Linked DNA regions of Homo sapiens: region 2 is linked to region 1. The links come from fine-mapping of genetic effects on gene expression. Tissue or cell type: whole blood. Region 1 holds a variant in brackets; the other region holds the start of a gene. All regions are shown on one strand. Distances are between the middles of the regions.

Evidence for each region. PIP is the estimated chance that this variant, and not a neighbour inherited with it, causes the effect.
Region 2: GNAS starts here. The variant in region 1 is fine-mapped to the expression of GNAS in whole blood (TOPMed, PIP 0.97).

Annotation. Positions count from the first base shown.
Region 1 is chr20:59,250,336-59,258,595 of GRCh38, forward strand. It overlaps ZNF831 (zinc finger protein 831), which reads left to right. Exons shown (of 6, transcript NM_178457.3): 5 at 2,643-2,803; 6 at 3,563-8,260. The coding sequence ends at 4,408. Among named protein-coding and RNA genes, the nearest start is that of EDN3, 46 kb to the right of the region's middle. The variant C/A (reference allele first, on the strand shown) is at 3,193.
Region 2 is chr20:58,887,388-58,895,387 of GRCh38, forward strand. GNAS (GNAS complex locus) reads left to right here and starts at 4,034. Exons shown (of 13, transcript NM_000516.7): 1 at 4,034-4,478. The coding sequence starts at 4,340. LOC101927932 (a long non-coding RNA gene) reads right to left here and starts at 1,423. Exons shown (of 5, transcript NR_126334.1): 1 at 1,387-1,423. RefSeq lists enhancers at 1,152-1,371, 7,996-8,000 and silencers at 1,812-2,091, 3,292-3,441, 3,502-4,001, 4,012-4,231, 5,102-5,191.

The DNA of each region.
Region 1 (8,260 bases):
AGTCAGGAGACCCGAGGACTCTTCTTGTAGAAGCTGACCAGTACACGTGGAGACCTGCAGATAACTACTTCAGGGTTCCCACTGAAACAGGGCAACCACATAACCTAACAGTAGGGCCCATGGTTGACAGATTGCACTTGTAAAGAACACCAAGTCAGCTTTTTTGTGCCCATTTCCTAAACATAAGCAGCGAAGATTGCTGTATTTCTCAGGAAAGCCACCAACCTAAAGAGAGAAATAAAAACAAACCAATGGAAACAAAGGAACTTGGAAGAGGGACTATGTAGGGGGAGGCAAACTTCAACAACGACAACAACAACAACCCATTATTAACATTGCCGGGGGTAAAAGAGAGGATGTTAGAGCTATGAAGTAAGAACAGGATGCTATAAAAAAAGAACATGGGAAAGAACTCTTAGAAATTAAAAGCATAATAGCAGAAATAGAAACTCATTGGAATATAAAGTTGAGGAAATTCCCCCAAAAGTGAAGCAAAAAGACCAAGAAACAGAACATCACAGCGAAAAGATAAGAAAAATAGAAGATTATACTAGGAGATCCAATAACCCAATAAGGGCAATTCTAGAAAGAGAGAGAAGACAAAACAGAAGGGAAAAAAAATCAGAAATAACAGGTAAGTTCAAGAGTTATATTGTACAACATGGTAACTATAGTTAATGACAATGTTTTGTATTCTTAAAAATTGCTGAGAGTATAAGTGTTCTTGCCAAAAAAAGATAAGCCTATGGGCTAATACATATGTTATTAATAATCTAATTTAGCCAACCTACAATGTGTGTATATTTCAAAACAATGCATTGTACATGAGGAAGGAAAAGGAAAAAAGAAAAACAGAACCACATTTTTCTAAAACCTGAGGACATGATTCAGATTGAAAGAATTGATTGAGTGCCCAGCCAATGAATGAAGATCGACCCAGGCTGTGGTGACACCAGAAATAAAGAAGAGCCTCGGGGATTCCAGAGAACGACATACAAAAAGATTTCATCCAAAGGACCATGAATCATAAATCATATTGTCTCCAGACTTTTCAACAACTGGAACGCAATAGAGCCGTGTCTGCAACCCCAAAGGGAAATGATTTCCGATTTTGAATGTCATACCCAGCCAAGCTGCCAATGACATCTAAAGAGTTATACTTCATGTACCCTTTCTCATGAAACTACTAGAAGTTTTGTGTTAGGAAAGCAGGAGTGTAAACCAAGAAAAAAGAAGTTGTAGAGGTTCAGGAACCAGGAAAGAGGCGAAGAGAATCAGCACAGCGGGGATGAAGGGAGACCCCAGGGGCACAGCCATGCTGCAGAGAAACATGGTCCACTTGGAGCAAATCAGAAAGTTTCAAGGAAACATTTCTCACAGAATGAAATGAAACCTCAGACAATTGGAGAGGTGGTTGGAAAATGATTTTAGAAATGAGTCCATAGAAAACTCAGCAAAATTTTTAAAAAGCAAAATCGTCATTAATCCCAGGGAAAGCAGTTTTCACAAGAAAGGCAACGTAATCGTAGTATACTACAAGATTCAGTGCTGACAGGTATTCTCCTAAACATACTAATATAAACATGGAATATTCGCCTAAATGAAAACAGGCCATAGGGGTTAGAGAACTGTTGAGAAGATAGAGAGGTGGAATGTGTGCTTGTGTGGGGGGTCATGAAGTTTGAAGAGGAGGAGAGCTGGAAGAAGAGGGAAACCCTCCTCTCTCCCCATGAGAAGTCACAGCTACTACTTCCACAAAATGTAGTTCTATAACAATGTTATCAGACATGAAGGAGCTAAAAGTCAAAAGACTCCCGAATGGGAAAAGATGGATGGGTTGGCAGGGGTTGCAGTTTTTCTTAATACACAGTTAGGCTTGACTTTTCAGACTGCACATGTGTACCTTTCATCAAAATAAAAGCAAATTTAAAAGTGGGTCTAGTGCTTCTTCTCTAGTGACACAGTCGTTTTAAGATATTTCTCTGATCTCATATCATGATGGAACCTGCCCTCTCTGAAATTTTGTGATCCTTTTGACTGGTATGCCAGGTCATCAGTGCGGGTGAAGGATGAAGGAAAGACAGGTATGAGAAGTGCTGTTTTGTGGATATTGTCAGGGCCCTTCTTTCCTTCCACAATCACAACAATAACCACCACAACAAAACAACAGCATCACAAAAGCCAACCTCATCCCTTGCTGCCCAGCACTCTAGTGGGAATTAAGACCTGGTTTATATTTCTGGGTTCCCACCATGCATCGAGTGAAACGTCTATTCTGACTACTTGGTAGTATGTCAGAGAATTCAAGCTGATCTAAAATTTACCTAAACAGACATGACCAGGAATACAACTCTGATGAGAAGAAGCAACATGAAATATAGATATATTTTATGATATGTATCATTCAGGGGTTTTTCTACTTTGAGAATTGGTTTTGCCATTTCCTTCCTTCATAGAGTGGATATATTTTATTTGACCAAATGTGAATTGGTTGGAGATAAATTGAGTTCTTGCACACACCCTGTGAGATGAGGGTTAATGAGCTCAGAGGCGATCAAGAAGTCATGGACAACCTCCCAGGAAATTACTCTTTGCTAATTTTATAATTCCAGTCATATGTAAATGTGCCTCTCCCCTTGCAGGTCTGAATCTGCAAGAGGAGCCATCTTGTGCCACCTCAGAATCACCTCCTTGTTGTGGGAAGGAAGAGAAGAAGGAAGGTGACTGCAGACAAACCTTAGGAACCCTCTCTCTTGGTACAAGTTCAAGAATTGTCAGGGAAATGGACAAACGAACTGTGAAGGTGGGCATGATGATTTTGAGCTGCCTCTACCTATTCCTGGTCTAGATGTATAGCCCTGCTTGTTCTTGCTGCTCTTGTTCAGTGTGGCAGAACTTGCTCGGATCACCTTATGAAGATTCGTGGCACAGAAAGCCCATTAAGACAAACAAATAACTCAAAACATTCTGTATCGAATGAGTAGCTTTGGTAGTGCAAACATTGGGATGATTTCTGATGGTTTCTTTAAAAAAAACCCCAAGTATGTTATTACTGCACACCTGAATAGAGAGATGGCTGACAGATGCCACTGCAACATGAAGCCCCCCCAGACAGACTGTGGGGCTGCGTGTTGAAAACCACTAAAATATGTATCCAGACCACATTTGGAAAAACACTCATCCGGAAAAAAC[C/A]AAAAAACCAAAAAACCCTTCAATACACAGTCCTATAAAATAGTACATCCGCTTCATGAGCGGTAGTGACTTAAAAAAGGAAGCTGAGAACTGGTAAGATAATTGAGTGGTTTTGTTTTTCACAAAGCCAGATAAAAGCACAGGACGTCAGCAACCTATTTTGTATCAATCAGGAGCTTTATTCGAGTTAATGCACCAATTAGTTATTAATGGAAACTTATTGAGGGCGTCATATTGAAGTTCACCCTTGGTAAAGAATCATTAAGACCTCAAGACCTGTTTTCATTGAGGACCACGTTTCTGACCACATTTTTCTTTGTACCAATTAACCTCCCCCCCCACTTTTTTTTTCCTTTGCACTTTGTTGCAGGATATTTCTCCATCTGCTGGTGAGCATGGTGACTGTACTACTCACAGCACTGCTGCCACATCAGGATTATCTCTGCAATCTGACACCTGCCTGGCAGTGGTTAATGACGTGCCTCTACCCCCTGGCAAAGGTCTTGACCTTGGGTTGCTGGAGACTCAGCTGCTGGCCTCCCAGGATTCAGTCTCAACAGATCCCAAACCATACATCTTCTCAGATGCTCAAAGGCCTTCTTCCTTTGGGTCCAAAGGAACTTTTCCCCACCATGACATTGCTACCTCTGTGGCTGCCGTTTGTATTTCTCTGCCAGTGAGAACAGATCACATAGCCCAGGAAATTCACAGTGCTGAATCACGAGACCACAGCCAGACTGCAGGGAGGACTCTGACATCAAGCTCCCCAGACAGCAAAGTCACAGAAGAGGGCAGAGCACAGACCCTCTTGCCAGGGAGACCTTCATCTGGACAAAGAATTTCAGATTCGGTTCCACTGGAGTCAACTGAAAAAACTCATCTTGAAATACCAGCTTCAGGACCAAGTTCAGCTAGTTCACACCACAAGGAAGGGAGACACAAGACGTTTTTTCCTTCCAGAGGCCAGTATGGGTGTGGGGAAATGACTGTCCCCTGCCCCTCTTTAGGAAGTGACGGTAGGAAACGTCAGGTATCTGGATTAATCACTCGGAAAGATTCTGTGGTTCCTTCTAAGCCAGAGCAGCCCATAGAAATTCCTGAAGCCCCTTCTAAATCCCTCAAGAAGAGGAGTCTGGAAGGAATGAGAAAGCAAACTCGAGTAGAGTTCAGTGACACCAGCAGCGACGATGAAGACCGATTAGTTATAGAAATATGAAGCTTCCAGAGAAACATGGTGTCTGGTCAAAAAGACTGTTGACGCTTCACAAGTAAATGTTGTCAGGCTGGCGGAAGAACTAAACTCTATCTGTGAAACACCTACAGATTAGGAAAGCCATTTTGAGTTATTTACAAGCCAACTCCAACCAACTTCTGACCCCCAACTCAGCCGCAGCGTTCCCCAGCTCCCCTTGGGAGTGCTCTGCTCATCTTCAAATGGTGCCAGGCAGGGCAGACATGGCAAGGAAGCAAACTCTGCAAATGGTCAACGTGCACAGTGACTGGGCCTTGACTCCCAGCCTCGTCTTCTGCACCTGTCCCCCACTGCCTCTCTGCAATCAAATGGCACTAACCAAGAAAGCCACCATCAACACATTTCTCCACAAGTGGACCCCACACAGTCGAGGCAACTGGCTTTCTCCATTAGTAAACTGAGGATTTGCTTCCAAGGTGGAGAGCACACTTGGGATAATTGGAGTAGCTTGACAAAGAGACGGGGGTGTGAACTGGGCACAAAGATACTTCTGTTCATTTTGGAGACAAAATTCAGATACATTAAAAAACTGAAGCTTGTTCAGAGTAATTCACGTCCTTGGTGGAGTTGTAAATACACTTCAAAATGCCTATGATCCGGTGACATGCTGATTACTTTTAAATGTTGCACAAATGGTCAATGCTTATTTATGGTCAGATGATGCAAGCACATGCTCTTGTGCCTGGTGCGTTTGCTGTGGAGATCTCTGAGACTGTCGGTTTTTCTAGTTCTTGCAAAGGAACGGTGTTAAAAGTTAATAGAACTGTCTCTCTGTAATGAGTCATTTTTTGAGAGGGAAAAATTCACTTATTTTCCTCTGATTCTTCTTGTCATATTGTGCTCTGAGCAATTTCAATTAGAGGGTTACATTTTAGTAATCTGTACAGCTTCAACTGATGCCTGCTCGTCGTGACGGGAGCCTTTTAGATTTCCTTCAGAAGCTTCAAGGATACAAAACTAATTGGAGTTTTGACGCTGTTTTACATCTCGGTAATTTTATTTTCGGGGCTTAGTGTTACTTTGCTGTCAAATTAAATCAGCCTCTGTATTGTGCACGTCAGAACTGCACAGAGAAAATTCCCCAGTATTCCAAGCCGGTGCGCCCCTGTGCAGAAGAAAACAGATCTACGTCAGCCAGCCCGGGGGGCAAAGCCTCAGTTCCACTGCCTTCCTCTCCCTCTCCTTCCACGGGAGAGGAGAAACTTAAAGAGGTTTACATTGCTGCATTTCAATAAAATTTTATACTTGCTTTTGGTATGATTTTGTACAATTTGAAATTTGTAGCTGAGCTCTTTTGGTGTAACTTTGATGTAATGATGTTCATATGACATCTTGTACTTCAGAGACACAGCAGCAATGCAGAGCATCTCACACATGTGAATACACTTCAGTCAGTCTGTGCCTGTGACTAAGTATGGTCAAATTTCAAGTATCTTCATGTGAATTTTCCAATTTTGGTGTTTTTCATAGAAAACTTCAATGCCAGACCAGCTTCCCTGGTTACTTAGCATATATTTGTGACCATTTCATATGCACTCATAAATATCCAAGGATTTCAGGCCCAGCCAAGAAAAACATAAGAAGGGAGGTAAAAAGGATGTTGGACATTGACTTAGTGTACTTTTTAAACCCAACAAAAGCGATGTGGTGATTATCTCCCTTTTCGAAGGATTCATGCCACTGTAATGAGAGAGGCAGTGTAGGCAAATGGTCTGAGCCTTGGATGGAGATTGAAGTCCTGACTTTAGCTGGGAAATCTTGGTTAAGAGTCTTTCTGTACCTTAGTTTCCCTAAGTGAGAATAAGAGAGTTGGACAAGACGAATGTATCTCCAGGTTCCAATTTTTCTGAGAATGGTTGATAGAGAAGCTGCTCTCTCCTTAAAATGCATGGACTCAATGGCTTGAAGATATTCCCCATGGGGAACCATTGCCACGGAGGCCTTGCATGCAAGAAGTTTGGGTGGGGACAGTGAGGAACTGAAACACAAGCACCTTCCACCAATTATTGCTGTGAAGAACCTGAGCCTGAAGAAGCTCCATCTAATTTTTTCCCCAGAGTTCCAGATTTTAGGGTGCAATCATCCAGCCTATACATGTGGCTCATAGTTCAAAAAATTAAAAGCAAAACCAGAACTCTCCAGTAGGAATGGAGAAAACCTATCTGTAGGCTGAACTGGCTCCTTTGTCTTAGGAGGCACTGGTCAGGGGAAAAAAGCTGTCTTCCAGACCCCTCCTTTCTGGGTGGCTACTGTGGAATCAACGGGGTCACTGGCTGTAAATCAGTAAGTCATAGCTCCAAACAGCACCAACTTCAGGATGATGGTGGAAGCTCTGTCCCTATAGGAGCCACCGTTGCCAGCTGTCACATCCCAACCTAGGTCAAATATGGCGGAATATTGATTTCGTCTCTAACTCCCTGTATCTCTTACAAAGGTAAAGCAGGTAGCGAAGCCACCTTGCTTCCCTGGTCTTTGCCTAGTGGCTGGCAATGTTTACAAGTGTACCTTACTTTATATCAACATGAATTTGTGAAAAAGCTGTATGTCAATGGATTTTTTAAAAATTAAAAATGTATTTTGAATGACCCTAAGGGAGCTGGCTCTTTAAAAGCATCCTAAGGTAAAGATTTTTTTTAAATGAAGAATCTTTTTATAAAGCAATGAACAATCTCTGATTTTATAAATCTTAATTTTCCTATGGGTTTTCTTAAAGTGAAATACAATTATAAGAATACATTTTAAGGGTAACATTAACAACCTAGAACCCAGTTTGGGTTACTAAAAATAAAATGTCAGTATTATCAATTGATAACTACCACAGTTTTATACTCTGCAAGTGTGTACTGCATGATGGTTAAGGAAAAACAAATTTATTTTAGAACAAAGCAAACCAGAGTTTAAAGATCAGGGATTTCCTTCTTTCCCCAGTGCTAATTTTCCCAGTGTTAATTTTATTATATCTTTAGGTAAGGGTCTTAACCAACTGATGCCTCAGTTTCTTCCACAGAGAATAGTTAGAGGGATGCTGTCATGAACTAAGGGAAGGGCACTGAATTTTTTTTTGCCAATATCAAAAGTGACATTTCCCCATGATGTTCAAGACTCACCAGGTTTCTCTCTCCACCTGTACCTACACCCAGCTAGATCTTGTCGTTAAAGATGTATGGAGGGAAGAGGTTTCAATCCTTCCCTCCTTGGCAACCTACATTGTTAAGTGACTCAAAGTCATGTGATTTTTGGTGGACAACTGGAATCCTCCTTCTTGTAAAACACATTGAAAAACAGCTCATCTCTCCTGTTAGGCTTAACCCTTGAGATTTGAGACAAAGCTAATAATCCCCTTTGGTTCACATCTCACAGTAACCAGGAGAACCTATGGTTCATTTGCCAAGTGATTAAAAAAAAAGATGGAGGAGGGTGTCTCTGAATTTTAATGGAAACACTGCCAATAGCATGGTGGGTAACCTAGGGCAAGACAGACTTTTTCTTCCTGAAATCACTCTTCTAAAGCTGAGACCGGAAGAGGAACCTTGCAGAAGTGCACTGTGACCACAGTTCTTGGCATGAAAGATAAACAATTTGCAGTCTCATGCCAAAAAGTATTTCCTTGCATTTACATTCATTACTTAGAATGATCACATTATTCATTTTTTTCCCCAGCACAGAAATTTGCATTTTGCACAGAATTTGCCTGGTGCAGCAGATCTTTATAGTTATGGAAACTGTCATCATTATCGGAATGTGCTGCTGCTCAACTCCCCAGACATAATTTAATATGGTGAGGAGAATATGACCTGCCTGGCTCTATGGGTGATC
Region 2 (8,000 bases), 360 kb before region 1:
TTTACCATCTAAAGATATAGAACCTGTGCTGTGTCATCAAGCGGTTCTAATTTAGGTGGTGGATGGTAGTGAGCCTCACTATCACTAGTACAGGCAGCCTAGGAATCATCGATTCTGAGGCCTTACTGCTGAGTTCTCCTATGAGCACATTCAGGTGTATCTGCACAATATTTTTATGCATCTTTGGTTAGGTGAAAAGCATCAACCTAGGATAGTTCCTTTGAGCATTTTCAAAATAAGGTGTATTTTTGTGTGGAAGAGAGGCCATCCATGATCAGGAGTGTGACAAAAACCTGGCCCCAACTTTTCAGCCAAGTTCAAGAAAGTCAGGGGTCTGCAGCAGCCCAGGGCAGGACGGTGTCTAGGCTGCGCTTCCTGTTCTTAATTCCAAGTGTTGTTTGGTGACTTTGAATCGCCCTCTGTTGTCTTTTCAGATTCATAAAAAAGAGGCCTTGTACAATGGGGGCAGCAGTGTACCTGAAGGGGCCAAGAAAAATAATATGTGGCATCTTCATCTGTCACACCTTTTCTTACTCGAAGTGGAGCAAACTGGGGAAAAGGGGGGAATTTCAGTCATCCGGTTGAATGGCTAACAGTGTCTTTTTATTTTCAAAGCTAACTTAAAATGATACAAGTTTGCTCAAGGCCTCTGGTGGTATCAGCCGCCCCATACCCCTGGGGACTGTTAAATGTGTTTCCATTTATAGGTAGACTTTTCTTTTTTCTCCTTCTCCATCAAACATCTTAAGTTTCATGGGCTCTGTTAAGAAGTCAAAGAAAAAGTTGGAAGACAGTTTGTGGACTTTGCATATCTGGGCTTTCCGGGACGTAGGCCTGTGTCCCATCCAAGACACTGCTCACGTCTTAGCCTGATTACCTGGCCGCCTCGGCTCACCTGGGCACATGGTGAGCCGCGGAACTGGCAGGCACCAAACATTTATTGAATGAATAAACCGTATCCCAGCAGACACCATGGTGGCAGCAGATGACCTAACCAAGGTCCCAGGAAAGGCGGGCTGGGGTCAACTGCTTGAAAATTTAGTAACCCTGCTCCTAATCCCGTGCACTGCTATATCCTAGTGTGCGGCGGGACACTTGAGAGTTTTGAAAGAACCCTCAAACAAGTTCACGTTCCGTAAACTACTTTTCCCTCTGTTCCAGAGCCCCCAGGGCGCCCAGGCAAGGCCGCCACCTCTCCCACCTGGGAGGACGCCTCGAGCACCGACTCCACAGCCACGGCCACCGCTCCTCGGCTCCCGTGACACCGGCGCGCCTGCTGCTTCGAGCAGGGGAGGCTTTGCACTCCCATCGCACTTTTCTCGTCCGAAGATACGAAACTCCGTCCGGGCGTCGCAAATAATTCGAATTCGGCTCTCTGACACCTACCTCGGCGGGCGCGCGCCGCTGGGAGGGCGGGGTGGGTGGCTGGAGGTAAGGAGGCGCACAGCAGGGGTAAGCGCCGCCGTCGCACACTTTGCACGCCGCCCAGGGCTACACCACTCACCGAAAATTGGGAGGCAGGTCTGGGAGGCGGGGTTGAGCGCCCACCGCCTTGGGCGCGCCCGCGCCCCCCGCCATCGCGGCCCCCGCGCCCCCGGCCCACGCCCGCGCGGTCCCGGCACCGGCCTGCACCCCCAGGGTGCGCGGCGGCCCATTTGGGTGCGTCCCCGGTGGGCCGATTTTTCGCGCTTCCCCTTCGGTTTATAGGGGCCGCTGCTATGGGTCGGTCCTCTGAAGAGGCTGGGGCGTCATCGGGGCCGGTTAGAAGCTCTGCTCCCCGGCGGGGACACTCAGTCGCGTCGGCACCGCGGAGCGGGCTGCGTCAGGTGGCTGGCCGGCGCGGCGCTCCCCTGCTCTCTGGCTCCGGGCTGCGGCGCGGCGGCTGGAGCGAGCCCCTGTCCCGGCGCGGGGCGGCGGCGGGCGGCCGGCAGGCGCTGCCTTGCGTGTGAGTGCACCTCACTCACATGTAAGTCGGGGAGCGCCGGGGCCTCCCGCGGAAGTGCGAGTCGCCCGGCGCAGGCAAGAGCCGCCGGGTCCGGGACAAGGCAGGGGCGCCCGGGCGCCGCTGCCTTGCCCCGGGGCGCCTCCGGGCACCCCCCAATTCTCTCTCTTTTCTCTTCTCCATTGGCGTGCCCAAGAGCCAAACCAAGGAGCGCCTGAGGGTAAACAGACTCCTGCCATCCGCGCCTTTGCACTTTTCTTTTTGAGTTGACATTTCTTGGTGCTTTTTGGTTTCTCGCTGTTGTTGGGTGCTTTTTGGTTTGTTCTTGTCCCTTTTTCGTTTGCTCATCCTTTTTGGCGCTAACTCTTAGGCAGCCAGCCCAGCAGCCCGAAGCCCGGGCAGCCGCGCTCCGCGGCCCCGGGGCAGCGCGGCGGGAACCGCAGCCAAGCCCCCCGACACGGGGCGCACGGGGGCCGGGCAGCCCGAGGCCGGGGGCAAGCAGGGAGCCCGGGCCAGGCGCGAGCCGAGCTCCCCGAGGTGGCCGGGCCACCATGCTGAAGATGGCCATGAAGCTCAAAGCCCGGGCGGCGGAGAGCGAGAAGAAGACGGCCGCGGCGGCTGCCGAGGTGGCTGCCGAAGCTGCGGCGGCGGCTGCGGCGTTGGCCGAGCCGAGAGAGCCGCTCGCGCCGCGGAAGAGCGGGGACCCCGAGAAGCTCGCGAAGAACCCCAAGAACCCGGCGCGGGAGGCGCTCCCCGAAAAGTTCCTAACAGACAAGGAGCGCAAGAAGCTCGAGAAGAAGCTGCTGGAGCAGAGGCGAAAGGAGGAGAAGAAGAAGGAGAAGGAGAGGAAGAAGATGGAGAAGATGCTGAAGAAGAAGAAGAAGAAGGTGCCAGAAGCCCAGGAGGAGGCCCGATGCCCCGAGGCCGCCGCCGCCGCGGCCGCCGCCGACGACGACGAGGGCGCCGAGGAGGGCGCCGTCGGGGGCGCCGAGGAGGGCGCCGCCGCCGGGGGCACGAGTAGGGCCTGGGCTGACTGGGACACGGACTCGAGCGACGAGGACGACGCCTACTACGCGGCGCCGCGCGTTGGGGGCATCGTGTGGCGGCCCGGGCCGCTCAAGGCTGGCGCGCTGAGCGCCCACCTGCCCCTCGTGGTGTTCCTGGTCTTCTCGGTGCGCAGCCCCTCGTGGGTGCTCAACTTCCTGCTGCAGAAGCGCACGGAGCAGGGCCGCGGCTGCGGCTTCGTGTTCGGGGCGACCTGCTGCTTCCGAGTGTTCCTGGGCTGCGCCTTCTTCTCCTACTTGGGCGGCCGCGCCAAGCGCAGAGGCCGCGGGCGCTCCGGGGCCAGAGGCGCCTTCGGCTCGGGCCATGGCGCCCGGCGCCGGGGGCGCGAGGAGCGGCTCATCTAGTCAGACCCCCCACCCCGCCACCGCCACCAGACACCACCATCGCTGTGTAGTGTGGGTTTTTATTCGTGTTCGTGTGTGTGTGTGGACACATTTTCCTTTTCGGTTGCTCTGTCCTTTGGTTCGTGCTCGCCTCGCTTTTTCCACACTCCTGCTCTCTGGCTCTCTGTGTCTCTCGCTCTTTCGAAAATTTTCCTAAGTCCGGGCGCGCGCTCCCTCCCCTTCCGCCCACCCCAGCCCCTCGGCGGCGCCCGCGGGAGGGGGAGGAGGCCTCGGGGGCGCCGGGCGACGCGGTCCGGGGGGTGGAGCGTTGGCGTCGTGCGAGGGGTCGTCACTGGCGCGGAGACGCCCCCTCTCCCCCCTCGGCTCAGCCGGGCTGCTGCCCGAGCCCGGGGGGTGGGGGGCGTCTCCCCGGCCCGTCCCGTCCCCGGCCGGGCGCGGGCGGAGGGACCCCCTCCCCGGGCTCCCGGGGGGCCGCCTCCCTCCGCCGGCTCCCGCCCTCCCAGCCGCCGCCGCCGCCGCGGCCGCTCCTCGGCCCTCCTCCTCCTCCTCCTCCTTCCACCCCCCTCGCCGCCGCCGCCTCCTCCTCCCCCCGCCTCCCCCCGCCCGCCGCGGCGCTTTTGGCTCGGGGCGGCGGCGGGGGCCCGGCCGAGGCAATAAGAGCGGCGGCGGCGGCAGCGGCGGCAGCAGCTCCCGCAGCTCCTGCTCTGGTCCGCCTCGGCCCGGCGGCGGCCATCAGCCCCCTCGGCCTCGGCTCGAGGGGCGGGGAGCTGCGCGCGCCCCTCGGTCCGACCGACACCCTCCCCTTCCCGCCCGTCCGCGCGCCCCGCGGCCCGCGGCCCGCAGTCCGCCCCGCGCGCTCCTTGCCGAGGAGCCGAGCCCGCGCCCGGCCCGCCCGCCCGGCGCTGCCCCGGCCCTCCCGGCCCGCGTGAGGCCGCCCGCGCCCGCCGCCGCCGCAGCCCGGCCGCGCCCCGCCGCCGCCGCCGCCGCCATGGGCTGCCTCGGGAACAGTAAGACCGAGGACCAGCGCAACGAGGAGAAGGCGCAGCGTGAGGCCAACAAAAAGATCGAGAAGCAGCTGCAGAAGGACAAGCAGGTCTACCGGGCCACGCACCGCCTGCTGCTGCTGGGTAAGGGCGGGCGGGGGGCGCCGGCCCCGGCCCGGGGGCCCTCGAAGGGCGCCCCGCAGGCCGCGCGCGCCGAGCCCGCCCCCCGCCCCGGGCGCGCGCTCCCGAGCCCCCCGCCCGTTCGCGGGCTCTGTCTGTGGGGGGCGAGGCCGGAAGGGGGACCCAGGGGCGCGGATTCGGCCGGGCGGGGGCTCAAAAACGGGGCGGGGGGCCGTGGCGACGCGGGCGCGGGTCCCCCTCCCCCGGCCTGCCCGCTCAGTGTCTCTCTCTTGCTCTCGCTCTCGCTCTCCCCCTCTTTCTCTCTTTCTCTCTTTTTCCGCGAGGCCTACACGACGCCAGGGGTTTGGGTGCGTGTTGGGGAGGGGGAGGGGGAGCCCATGGGGCTCCGGAGACTGCGACAAAAAGAGGGTTTCGGGGACAGGAAACCGGGTGGCGGGTAGAGGGAGGGGGACCCGCCTCCGTGGGGTGTGAGATTTGTTGGGAGAGGGAAAGAGGGGAAGAAAGGGGCGAGGAGAGGAGGGGGTGACGCTGGGGGGCGCCGTGGTGGCGGAGGGGGCCTCGCCAAAGGGAGGCTTTGGCGGGGAGAAGTGGCCGAGGAGAGTGGGGGGGCTGGTGACATCAGCCCCTCGGAAAGGATCGGAGCGGTAAAGGTGGTGCAGTGGGGGGGAGGGGGCGCAAGGGAGTCGTGGCGCCGGAGTCGGGAGGGGGGCGGCGAGGGGAGGAGGGAGGGCGGTTGCCGCTGGGCGCGACTTGGTGCGTTTCGGGCAGGACCGACTGACTGTGTGTGCGCGGAGCAGACGTGTCCCGGGCCAGGCCGGGCCGTGGAAGGAGGAGAAGGAGAGTCAAATAAAATAAGACCACCCCCCAACACCAAAAAATGGATAGAGTTAGTACGAGAAGTGCCCAGTGAAGCCAAATGACACGTCATTTTACAGTGTGACCTTTTTTTCCCCTTCCAGACTTGCAGGCTTTTTCAAAAGCAGAGCGGAGAATTAATTGTAGCAGCTGCCCCCCCCACCCACCACGAGCAGCGCCCCCCCAACACTATTTTAATAAACCATTAAAAAAAACACATTTTCCTGCTGGCTGGCCACATTGAGAGTGCTTTGTGAAAAGAAAAAACAAAGACATTCACAAATCAGATAAAACTGGAGAATGACATTTGTCTGTAAATGGCTTCTTGGTCTGGAAATGGCGTGGTTTCTTTTTTTTTTTTTTTTTTTTTTTGTCCTCCTCAAGGTGGGAGGGGGGATTGAGAGTGCTCTAAGGAGACTTTTCCTCCAGGTGGGAAGAGATAAAAAGACATTAATTAGTTGTTTATCAAGTGACATTTAGTTGTTTGGTTTTGGGTTTTCTTTTTTTGATTGCGATTTTTCCTCTGATTAAAAAAATAATAATAAAATAAAAAAAGGTTAACTATAAGGAGATGGCCTTTCCTCCTTTTTTTTCTTAAGGTGCTGTTTTGGGGGAAAAAAATGTAATGAAATGACCAAAAGAATTACACAGCATTAATTAAAAATGGAAGTTTTCCACTTCCTTGATAATTTGGCTATCTGAATAAATTTGTGAATTTGCTAGGTTAAGACCTAGTTCGTGGTCACATTTCAACAAAACAGCTTGAGTATAAAGAAAATAATAAAAGGCTGTTCTTATTTATTTTCCTTTGGTGGCTTTTGGTTTGCTCTTTTTGCATAGGTCATGACTTTGTTCTCCTGGGTCCAGATTTATAAAAGCAGAAAATTACTAATTAAGTCAAAATAAGTGTCTTTGGTGTTTATGCATTTGCAATTTCAGTAATTAAATGGTACATGTGTTGCTGTCTTGTCTAAAACTTTTAAAGGCAGAATTATGCTGTTGGGATATTAGTATGCGTATAACTTGATTTCAAAGTATAAATCTGGAAAAGTCTAGAATCTTTTCTGTGAATGCTATCTCAGTACTACTTTAAGTCAAGTGTGATGCTAATGATATCTTAAAATTTCCAACACCTTTTGTGCAGTGATCACAAAGTCTCCACTTAATTTGAGACTGTTACTCAGAACACGCCTTGCGTCACGGGGGCTAATCTAAGTGTCCTAGTCTATATGACTACATTACATCATGATGTATTGATTGCCTCTGGCCTAGGAATCTGCAGCTTAAGCCAGTGACACAATATTTTGCATTTTTAAATGGTGATTCTCACCAAATAATGCCTCCCCACAAAAGAGGAAACCTAATAATGCCCCAAATCCTCTTTTTACTCCATCTTAATGACATAAAAATTAAGTGAATTAGAGAACTACAATGATCTTAAAATAATTTTTCAGCCACATTTCATAAATGTGGAAACTGAGGCACGGATCTGTTTTTGCCTATGAAAGATAGGTCCTGTAACTGTTACACAGTTTAACACTTCTGAAATTAGAATATTAGAGATCCTGCTAAATATTACGTATTGTTTCCTTGGCCTCTCTTAATAGTGCCATTTATATTTTTAATTTACCAGAGTTAGGCTCATTAAGATAGTGTTTGCTTTGAAATCAATGTTTCTGTGGAAACTAATTTTAACTTTTACAGATATTGATTACGGGCTTGTGAAAAGGCAAGTAAAGGAGGAATGCTGTGCTATCTGGGCATTAAAACAAAACAATACAATTAAAAGTTAAAAAGAAAGAAAAAGGTAATAACAGATTTGTGTGGAAGGAGGGCAAAAAAACTTCACACGTGGATTATCTGTTGGAGAATGTGCATTGCAAAAAAGATGCAAAATAGCAATCCTCCCTCTAGCTTGATGGAAATGTGTTTTTTCCATGAAACATATATGTATTTTTACAAATGAAAGATGATTTAAAATGGAGGCATGTGTTTCTACTCTTTGAGTTGGGAAGGGCTTGGAATCTTTCAAATTCAGTACTTCCCAGGGATAGTTTTCCTTTTGATTAAAGTTTTGTTCTTATGTTACTTTTTACTGTTGTTTTTGCAGTTTACCTAATGCTAATAGGGTCTCAGGAACTGTATTTGATGTTAAAGTGTGGTTTTTCCAGAAGATGACAGATAATTGATGGTCTCCCCTTTTCCTCAGCAACATAGTTGTACCCAGAGGGAATTTATCTTTAGAAAGATATAGTTTGTGAGGAAAGAGGAGGATGGATAAGTGGATAAAATGTAATGCAGTTTTAGGGGTGGATTTTTAAGTAGCCCAAGGGGTAGGAAACCTGCACAGAAAGAAGCTGCGTTGTGAAAATGTTGAGGAGGAAAGTGCTGCATCGCTACGTGATGTGGAAGAGACTGCAGTGTCTGGGCATTGTTGGGAATCCCGGGTATTTTAACCATGAAACATCTGACAACAAATTATGTGTCTAGATATGTTTATGTGTGAATGTTCATGTATCAGGGATTCAGTTTCACAGTTTTAACTTCAATTTTCTTGTTTACCCCACAAATGACAAAATTGCGTCATTCCTTCTCTTTGCCCCTTTCCAACACCACCCCACAATTTTTTAAACAATCAAAAGAAAAATTAAAACCAGCAAACCTTAAATT